Linked DNA regions of Homo sapiens: region 1 is linked to region 2. Evidence: fine-mapped QTL for protein levels in blood plasma. A gene starts in region 2. The other region holds a variant in brackets. All regions are shown on one strand. Distances are from middle to middle.

The links. A credible set is the group of variants that fine-mapping cannot tell apart. PIP is the posterior inclusion probability: the model's chance that the variant is causal. The UK Biobank Pharma Proteomics Project read protein levels with antibody pairs (Olink). The fine-mapping took linkage between variants from a reference panel, not from the people measured, so its PIPs are less certain.
Region 1: its variant is the best candidate, but not a certain one, in a credible set for the plasma level of the CD38 protein (UK Biobank, PIP 0.57).

Annotation. Positions count from the first base shown.
Region 1 is chr4:15,751,278-15,756,663 of GRCh38, forward strand. LOC107986186 (a long non-coding RNA gene) reads right to left here and starts at 5,149. Exons shown (of 2, transcript XR_001741393.2): 1 at 5,047-5,149; 2 at 2,794-3,264. It also overlaps a transcript of BST1 not described here. The variant T/C (reference allele first, on the strand shown) is at 3,005.
Region 2 is chr4:15,775,942-15,781,327 of GRCh38, forward strand. CD38 (CD38 molecule) reads left to right here and starts at 2,387. Exons shown (of 8, transcript NM_001775.4): 1 at 2,387-2,706. The coding sequence starts at 2,474. RefSeq lists enhancers at 2,172-2,814, 2,226-2,725 and silencers at 2,856-2,905, 3,096-3,145.

The DNA.
Region 1 (5,386 bases), 25 kb before region 2:
ATAACTTCCCCTTATAATCCCCTTTAATTGAAAAAAATCTCGGGGAACATTCTGATTGGCAGGGCTGGAGTCACATGACCACCATGGGCCAATGACTATGGCAAGCTGGGTTGACTATTACAATTGACTAGCTGTGATCAGGGAGGTGGTACCATGAAAGAAGACAGGTATTTTTATTCAGAAGAGGAAGAGAAGCAATTCCTCAAAAGAAAGGTAGCATTGGTCCATAAAGGGAGGGTGCTGGGAAGATTCAATACTCTTCCTACATAGTGGAGATCTAGATATATACATTATAGTCACTATTGTGTATACAGTGTATATAGATATACACTATATCTATGTATATAGATATATGTGTATACACTATATGTATATCTATAGATCTATATTTATATAGTATATGTATATCTTATAGATATACATAGATATAATGTATACATCCACATATAGTATGCACACATCTATGTATATATCTATGTATATACATCTATGTATAGATGTACTGTGTATAGTGTATATAAATATACACTGTAGTCACTATTTTCTTCATCTTAATATGCTTATGTCTCAGTCTCTTTTCTCATCACAGCACACAGAATCCAGCACTTCTCCTTTGTGTATTATAACAATTTATTTCTTGCAACAACTCATGGCAGTGGGAACGTGGCTCGTATAAGACTAGAAAATGAATTATTGCCGTTTTATAAACATGCTAAGGAGATTTAGTTTTGCACTGAAAGCAAAGGAAAACCATAAAAGATTAAAAAACTTTGACAAGAGAGGTGTATGATCAGATTTGTGCTTTGATCATTAATTCATTAAACAGCTATCATTGTGTGTTTATGAGTTCCAGGTGTTCTTCTAAGTTCTAGGATCTATTCAGTAAATGGGCAATTGTGCATATGTTCTTGTAGTGCACATTCTAGTGGGTGGAGATAATAAATAGCTTGTATAAGGAATAAATTGTATTTTCGAAGGTGATGCATGCTCCAGGAAATAATACAACATGGAAAGCTAGGCTGGGGCTATGGTTTTAAATGAGAAGTCTGGATAGGCCTCATTGAGAAGATGATGTTTAAACAAAGATTTGAAGGAGTGAAGGAATCAAGCTATTCTTTTTTTTTTTTTGAGACAGAGTTTCGCTCTTATTGCCCAGGCTGGAGTGCAATGGCGCAATCTCGGCTCACTGCAACCCCCGCCTCCCGGGTTCCAGTGATTCTCCTGCCTCAGCCTCCTGAGTAGCTGGGATTACAGGTATGTGCCACCATGCAGAGCTAATTTTGTATTTTTAGTAGAGACACGGTTTCTCCATGTTGGTCAGGCTGGTCTCAAACTCCTGACCTCAAGTGATCCACCTGCCTCAGCCTCCCAAGCCATTCTTATATCTATAGAATGAACATTTCAAGCAGAAGGAGCAGAAGCAAAGGCCCCGTGGTAGCCATGTGTCTGAACTATTTGAGGAACGGCAAGGAGGCCAGGATGGCAGGATCAAGGTGAGGGAAGAAAATAGGCCAGATCAGGTCAGGCCTTGCAGGCTATTTCACTGGCTTTTTTTGGAATGAGATGGAAAGCCAGTAAAGGCCCACTGGAGAGAGGCTTCTGGCCACTGCACATTGATGCTGGTTGATAATGTAAATAGTACATATAAATCACTAAGAAGATATAAATCACTAAGAAGATAAAGTGATTTACATATAAATCACTAAGAAATATTTAAATATAAATCACTAAGAAATATAAATATAAATCACTAAGAAATATTTAAATATAAATCACTAAGAAATATAAATATAAATCACTAAAAAATATTTAAATATAAATCACTAAGAAGATAAAGTGGCTGTCCTCTTAGCATTTCATCTGGCAATATATCACCCTCCATCTTCATCTCTCTGATATAAATGTCATATCCAAAATACAGCACGCTGCATTCTTCTTCTAAAATTTCAGATTAGATATGTTCCAGCCTCTGTCTAAGCTGTCTCTATCTCTGGGGCTCAGATATGTCAGAGCTGATAGCATGGGACTTTCAGAAGTCCATTTGTGGGAGGGATTTTTTCAGATAAAGGCGGTCTGGAAAAGGGAGAAGAATTAGAAGGTATCCATCGTATCTGTAGCAGAGATTTTTTATGTATGTGTGTGCTCCTGTGTATACATGTAGAAACCAAACATCCTGAATGGCTCACGATCGCGCCAGTGGGTGTCCTTTGTCCTTGCATAATTATTAGTAGCATCCCTCTCCATTAGGTGAGCCCTAAGGAGAAAGAGTAGGGTCTTTAAGAATGTTACGAGACACAGAGCCACAAACAGTATTGGGATAGGACCCAGCTCTCAAAGTGTGGCCCAGCCATGGCACAGCTGGAGGTTCGCAGAGATGGTGCCCACCAAAGGCAATGATGGGACATACATAAACTGCCTTGCAGGCAGGGAGAGTCCAAATCGGTCAGGGCCCATCCAGACACACAGATAGCACACTCAAATCAGGAAAATCGGAGGAGGTTTAATAGGGACTATCTGCAAACCATTGATGTGTACAGAGATGCACCAAGGCCTCACAGAGTGAGGCAACAGGGAGGTCATGGGAATCCGGAAGGAGAGAGTCCCATGGAGAGGTCATCTGGAGAAGAGCAGTGGCCTCTGTCAAGGAACCCAGTGGCCTGAGGCAACCCTGCAGGGAGGAAGCCAGCTGAGGGAATGGATAACCGGACCTCAGTCACCTTCCTTCCTTTGGGAGAGCCTCCTGGGGCTGGATCCAGGGCAGAGAGCCAAAGGGAGAGGCTGGAAGATCTGGAAGGCCAAGTGGGGGGGTGTGAGGCCACAGCTTCTTCGTGTGTATCATCAGTGGAGATTGAAAAGAGAGGAAAACCACGATGGAGGCCTGTGGGACTGTGGGCAGCTTTTTCAAGTGCAGATGTGATAATCCCCACGAAGACCCCCGGAAATATTGAGAGGGAGGCTCTTTGAAAGGGGATGGTGTTCTGCAGAACAATAGAGGCTTCATGAG[T/C]CGCTAAAGTAGAGGTTGTGAGGATTAGTGTGACCCCATTGTGAAAACTGGCCTAAAAGAACCCAAGGAAACAGGGGTATGTTGAGTTCAGGAACATTGCAGAATTTCCAGATGTTCTCTGAAGCATGCACATGTCTAAGATTGTCTCCTCTCTAAGGGTTGTGTGCAGTTTCTTACCTTCTGTGAGCTGGCTGTGAACTCAGTGCCCCTGGGTGGTAGCAGAAGCATGAATGCTGAGAGGAAGGATGTTGCTGTCAGCACTGTGTGGTTTTGAATGAGATAAAGAATCAACGTCAGATGTAGCTGCACACATACTTTATTTTGTTGAATTTCCAACTGATGAAGTATTTGATAAGCATGCCTGAAAAGATGGAAAAAACGGGCTCTTTCCCAGCGGTCCATTTTTGTAATTTAAGTACGTAGATTTGTTTTAGTTTACATTTGGTGATTTTTATGTTATTTCTGAAAAGGTAGTATATACACATGGCTTAAAAATAAAACACTATGAAAAAATCTCATTCCCACTCCTGTCCCCTGTTCTGGTCCCACACCTCTAATTCGGATGACCACTTGTTTAAAGTTCATGTAGATCTGTCTAGGGTTTCTTTGCACAAGCACATACAAATACATGTTATTACTCCCTACCTTTTCTTACACAAAAGGAAGCATTAAACACAAAATACTTTGTACTCCTTAATAGTACATCCTGGAGATTATTCTGTATCAATACATACAGAGATCCCTCACTTTATTTTTTACAGCTGCATAATATTCCATGGGAGAGATGTTTTGTAATTTATTTAACCCACCCCGTTAGGAACATCATTTAGGTTGTTTGCAATCAGTTTCTCTTTTTTTTATTTTTTTATTTTTTTGAGATGGAGTCTCACTCTGTCGCCCAGGCTGGAGTGCAGTAGTGCAATCTCAGCTCACTGCAACCTCCGCCTCCCAGGTTCAAGTGATTCTCCTGCCTCGGCCTCTTCAGTAGCTGGGATTACAGGTGTGCACCACCACGCCTGGCTAATTTTTGTATTTTTAGTAGAGATGGGGTTTCACCATGTTTGTCTGGCTGGTCTTGAACTCCTGACCTCTTGATCCGCCCGCCTTGGCCTCCCAAAGTTCTGGGATTACAGGCATGAGCCACCGTGCCTGGCGCCAGTTTCTCTTATAAACAATGCTGCAATGACTAATCTGGTATATTTATTATCTTTCATGTGGGCAGAGATATTTGTAGGTTGAATTCCTAGAAATGGGGTCAGTGAGTCAAAGAGTAAATGCATTTGCAATATTAATGTATTCATTCTTCACTGGATCTCTGTAGTTTAGCAATGAATTGAACAACTGCATATTATTTATGGGTGAAAAGCCCCAAAGAAAAAAGAAATGCTGAGTCCAGATGTCACCTTCAGTCAATGTAGAGTGGTGGTTACCACCAGTGATGAAGGTCTTAGAGTGTTTATGCATCTGTGAGTGTGTGAGTGTGTGCTCATTTGTGTACTCTGAAAACCCTATTTGAAAAAAAAAACTTAACCATTGGGTTATTAGACAGATAATCACTTCACTCCAATTTCAAATCAATGAGTTTCTTATTCCAGCTTATATTCCAATAGTCCAAAGCTTCCAGGGAATAAAGGTAAAACAATCTGAGAGCTCTGAGTTCCTCCACAGGGCAAGTACCATGTAAACTGATAGATGATGTTAAGGTTCTCAAGGTGGTGACTAAACAGTTCTCCCAGTCTCTGCAACATAAACATAAACTTAAAAATTACACTGTAAGCTAGATCTTCATTTTGAAAATAACCATGGAATTTGAAAAAATAAAACTGAAACAAACAAAACACACCACCATGAACAACAAAAACAACAACAAAACAAGGGGGAAAAACCGACTTTCTGGTGTTTTTGCTAAAAGACTGCAGGGTGGGTTGGGGGAAGCTCTTCTCATAAAAGAAAAGTACTAGACAATCTGGTCTTTTAAAGGGTCTTGAAAACAGATTATGCAGTAAAACTGAGCTGTCAAAGACCCTCAGAGATGGTCGTACCTGGCTAGTCCTATGAAGCGCCCAGCTAGAGGAGAGTTTTCTTTCTCATTTTCAATCGTGGTTTGTGGTTAAAGATGTGCATGCCAATGGCAGGTCTGGGGGTGAGATGTGTTTGAAAAAACGTTGAATTTATATTTGCAGTACCAGCCAGACTCAGGAAGTGACACTCAACCACATTTTCCTGACCTGGGTGGAGATTAGTTGAGAGTGTGTTTGATAGGTTAACACATGTTGAGAAACATTTTGACATAGGACGTGTTGCATATAACTAGTTTTATGAAGATGATGTCCTTAATGGGTATATCTTCTATGAATGACTCAGGTCATCATCATAGACTTG
Region 2 (5,386 bases):
AAGACTCACATCTACAACCATCTGATCTTTGACAGACCTGACAAAAACAAGCAATGGGGAAAGGATTCCCTATTTAATAAATGGTGCTGGGAAAACTGGCTAGCTATACGCAGAAAATTGAAACTGGATCCCTTCCTTACACCTTTTTCAAAAATTAACTCAAGATGGATTAAAGATTTAAAATGTAAAACCCAAAACTATAAAAACCCTAGAAGAAAATCTAGGCAATACCATTCAGGACATAGGCATGGGCAAAGATTTCATAATGAAAATGTCAAAAGCAATTCCAACAAAAGCGAAAATGACAAATGGGATCCAATTAAACTCAGGAACTTCTGCACACCGAAAGAAACTATAATCAGGGTGAACAGACAACCTACAGCATGGGAGAACATTTTCAAAATCTATCCATCTGACAAAGGTCTAATATCCAGAATCTACAAGGAACTTAAACTAATTTATAAGAAATAAACAACCCCATTAAAAAGTGGGCAAAGGACATGAACAGATATTTCTCAAAAGAAGACATTTATATAGCCAACAAACATATGAAAAAAAGCTCAACATCATTGATCATTAGAAAAATGCAAACCAAAACCACAATGAAATATCATCTCATGCCAGTCAGAATGGTGATCATTAAAAAGTCAATAAACAACAGATGCTGGTGAGGTTGTGGAGAAATAGGAACACTTACACTGTTGATGGGAGTGTAAATTAGTTCAACCATTGTGGAAGACAGTATGGGGATTCCTCAAAGATCTAGAACCAGAAATACCATTTGACCCAGCAATCTCATTACTGGGTATATACCCAAAGGAATATAAATCATTCTGTTATAAAGATACATGCATGCATATGTTCATTGTAGCACTATTCACAATAGCAATGACATGGAATCAACCCAAATGCCCATCAATGACAGACTGGATAAAGACAATGTGGTACATATACACCAGGGAATACTGTGCAGCCACAAAAAGGAACGAGATCATGTCCTTTGCAGGGACATGGATGGAGCTGGAAGCCATTATCCTCAGCAAACTAACACAGGAACAGAAAACCAAGCACTGCATGTTCTCACTTATAAGTGGGAGCTGAACAATGAACACAGGGAGGGGAACAACACACACTGGGGCCTGTTGGGGAGAGTGGAGGGAGGGAGAGCATCAGAAAGAATAGCTAAAACATGAGGGGCTTAATACCTAAGCAATGGATTGATAGGTGCAGCAAACCACCATGGCACACATTTACCTATGTAACAACTCTGCACGTCCTGTACATGTATCCCAGAACTTAAAACAAAATAAAAAAGATAAAAAATAAATAAAACACACAGTCCAAAAAGTCATCCTGTCTTACAGAGCTATGGGTGATCTGGTCTCCTGCTACTTTCCGAACTTCTGTTCTGTTTCCCTCAACCCTCTAGCCTAACTACAATTGGCCTCCTTGCTGCTCTGGAACAGGCCAAGAGCTTTTCTGCCTCAGAGTCTTTGCACCTGCCATTTCCTCTGCTTGGGAAATGTTTGCCCCAAGGGAGTTGGGTGACTTGATCGCTCACATTACTTAGGTCTCTGCTTGAATGTCACAGATGTTCTCTTAATAAAGAAGAGGCAAGAAAAGCCACTTTATTATTTATTAAACTCCCGCATAGAGTGCAGTATTATTACTGTGTGCCAGACCCTGCTTCAAACACATTCCATGGACTATAAAATTGCATCTCTGAGCAGCTCCTAGAGCTGGTAGTAACAACTTACATTTACTGGGTGATTACCATGTGCCAGGTATTGTGCTAAACACGTTGTAGATATTAACTCACTTAATCCTCGTAACAATCCCATGAAGTAGGTACTGCTACTATCCCGGCTTTACATCTGAAGTACAGAGAGGTTAAGTAACTTGCCCCATGTCATCCAGCAAGAACTAAATTTGAACCCAGAGCTTAGCCACTGATGCCTCTTGAGAGAAGGAGTCAGACTTAAGTTGAGTCTTTAAAGGTGGTTGACCAGGCATTTGTCAGAGTTAAGAAAGAGAGGTAGGACATCCTTTTCCAGGCAGAGGGCATTGTGTGCACACACGTATAGAAGCAGGCAGCCCACCCTCATGCTTTCCAGGAAGCAAATGTGGCTCAGGTGTAAAGTGCCCGGTTGATGAAGGGAGTTAGCGGAGGGAGTATAAGGATGTACTGTCTGCCCCCTTAGGACACCTGCAGAGGATTAAGGTGGCTGTTTCTCCCTGGAGGTGGAGTGGGTGGGTCACTGCACAGGAGCCTATAGTTGTTGGTCTTTTAAACTCTTATTGGTGTAACCAGCCACGGAACTCTGAGGCAAGGGGTTGGGGGTGGGAAGGGAAACAGAGAAAAGGCAAGTGAAACAGAAGGGGAGGTGCAGTTTCAGAACCCAGCCAGCCTCTCTCTTGCTGCCTAGCCTCCTGCCGGCCTCATCTTCGCCCAGCCAACCCCGCCTGGAGCCCTATGGCCAACTGCGAGTTCAGCCCGGTGTCCGGGGACAAACCCTGCTGCCGGCTCTCTAGGAGAGCCCAACTCTGTCTTGGCGTCAGTATCCTGGTCCTGATCCTCGTCGTGGTGCTCGCGGTGGTCGTCCCGAGGTGGCGCCAGCAGTGGAGCGGTCCGGGCACCACCAAGCGCTTTCCCGAGACCGTCCTGGCGCGATGCGTCAAGTACACTGAAATTCATCCTGAGATGAGGTGGGTTGGCGACTAAGGCGCACCGGTGGGCACTGCGGGGACAGCAGGGCCCCGCGCGCAGGGAAGCCGCCCGGATCGCCCGGAACCGGGCATCTTCCGTGGCGGGTCAGCCGAGAGCCCGCCGGGTGGTGCTGAGTAGGGAGTCCCGGGCTCGGGGCTCCGCGGGCCGCTTTCAGGAGCAGCTGGCCTTGGCACCGAGCGTGCCCGCGGGAGGCGGGGGGGGGCGCTGCTCGGTGGCTCTGCTGCGTAGCCGGTGAACACTTGGCACCGATGCCCGCCTTCTGGGCAAGGTGCCCTGAGCCCAGCCCCTCGCCGGGCTGCAGCCCACCCTCGGCGCGCTCAGCCCGCTTCACCGCTTCAGGGACGGAATAGAACTCGCAGATGCAGGGTGTCGCTGACATTTTCAACTTTTTCTGCGGTTTCCGCCCGCTGTCTCTGACCCGAAAGTGCCCCCGGACGGTTACAGAGGACACTTAAGTGGTTTGCAAAGCCTGTGGTAGGGGAGGAGGGTGTAGAAGGGCCAAACCACGGAACTTAGTTTTATTCATTTATATAAAGCAGCACTCCGATTCTTTTTGCGCGGCCTGAAATGCATGTGACCAGAGAAGTAATTAACAAAACAATGTCAACTTCTAAAACCGAGACATTACTTAGATGATAAGGCGCAGCAACTCGGTGAATCTGTACAAACCTTGGAAAAAAAACACATTAGTCTATGGGACCTTCCAGTTTTCTCATGCTCCTTTCCAGCTACTAACCTCTCCTAAAGGGAACAACCACTTTTTGGATTTGATTCCCAGGCCTCGCTTTCACCGGGAAATTATCGTTGCTTGTAAAACAGAAGAAGCCGGGAAGGCAGGCAGGGGGAGCTGCTACTTTACACTCTGTGCTTTGGGATAGCAAAATCCCGCATTTAAGCAATCCGAGGAAACGAGCAAATAGACCTCCCTCGCCTCTCCGAGCACACTCAACAGTTCCGGTTGCAAAATGTTTGCCTCCTGGGCTTCCCAGCGTCCCGTTAGTTGTTCTATTTACACATAATTAGATACTTAATGGAGAGAGAAACTAGAAGTTGAGGCGTTCCTCCAGGCTGTATTGTAAAGTATGAAGTGAAATCCAAAATGAAATGGTAATGTTAGAAAGCAACCTCATTAAAAAAAAAAAAAGTAACACTGGTCTTGAAGATCTTTCAATGTGAGTACATAAAGATCTATCTCATTTCTTTTGACAGCCCATAGTATTTCATAAACTAGATGTAACCATTTCCTATTGACAGGAAATTAGCTTGTTTCCAATTTTTCAATCCCATTCATTCATCCAACAAGTATCTGTTGAGCACCCACTATGTTCCAGACAGTGATCTAGCTACTGATGACACAAGAGTGAATGACGAAGTTCTCACTCATGAAATTTTCACCTTAGTTGGGAGAAACATGATGCAATGAAAATCTTCATACATACATTGTGTGTACATATGGGAGTATTTCTGTAGGATAGATTTCTAGTGATGAAACTGCTGAGTAAAAGGGAGAATTATGCATATTTTAAGTTTTGATTTTTCCAAATTCCAGGTATTCCATATATACTCCAAAATAGTTGTGCCATTTTACTCTCCCATCATCAGTCTATCAGAGGGGATGCTTTCCCACAATCTCTTGAATGCTGAATATTTTCAACTTTTTTACTTAAGAGAAAAAAGAGCATCTAATTGTTCCCTCAGTATCAGTGAGTCTAAGCATCTTGTATATGTTTATTTGCCATTTATATTTTTTTCTGTGATTTTCCTGTCCAGATACTTGATACTTTCTATTGAGCTGCTTATTTATTTCTTATGGGAGATTTTTATATATTTTAGATAATATTCTCTCTCTCACACACACACACACACACACACACACACACACACACACACACACACACATACAGTCTTACAGCCACATCCCTGAAATCTTGACCTTGTGAACATGTTTTACTGGCAGCACTCTGGACTCGATCATTGCCTTGAGACTATTTCTTTTTTGATATTCTTTGGAAAGACTAACAATGACAGTTTTATTTTCAAACCCAACAAATCCTGGCATGGAAATGTTTGCTCTTGATTCTGCTTTTAAAAAAATAAAGAATTATTTTCTCTCTTTCTTTCTGCACCTTATCAGAAACAGCTAAAAGAAGTGAGTTGGGCCAGGCACTGTGGCTCACACCTGTAATCCCAGCACTTTGGGAGGCCCAGGCAGGTGGATCACTTAAGGTCAGGAGTACAAGACCTGCCTGGCCAACATGCTGAAACTCCGTCTCTACTAAAAATACAAAATTAGCCGGGTGTTGTGGCGCGTGCCTGTAATCCCAGCTACTCTGGAGACTGAGGTGGGAGAATCGCTTGAACCCAGGAGGAGGAGGTAGCACTGAACCAAGATCCAGCCTGGCCAAGAGAGTAAGACTCCGTCTCAAAACCAAACCAAACCAAACCAAAAAAAGAAGTGAGTTGGCACTTTCAACATTCTGCCTGGAAATCTCCTTACCAAACCTATAAGATCATTAGGTATATTTTCTGCACTTTGTATTGTGACAGGTGACAGTGTTACCAAACTTTTTACCAGGACATAATAGGGTCTGCCTTTCTTCTAGTTGCTAACAATTTCCCCCAAGTCCATCTTGCCTGCACTAACAGTCTCCTTTAGAC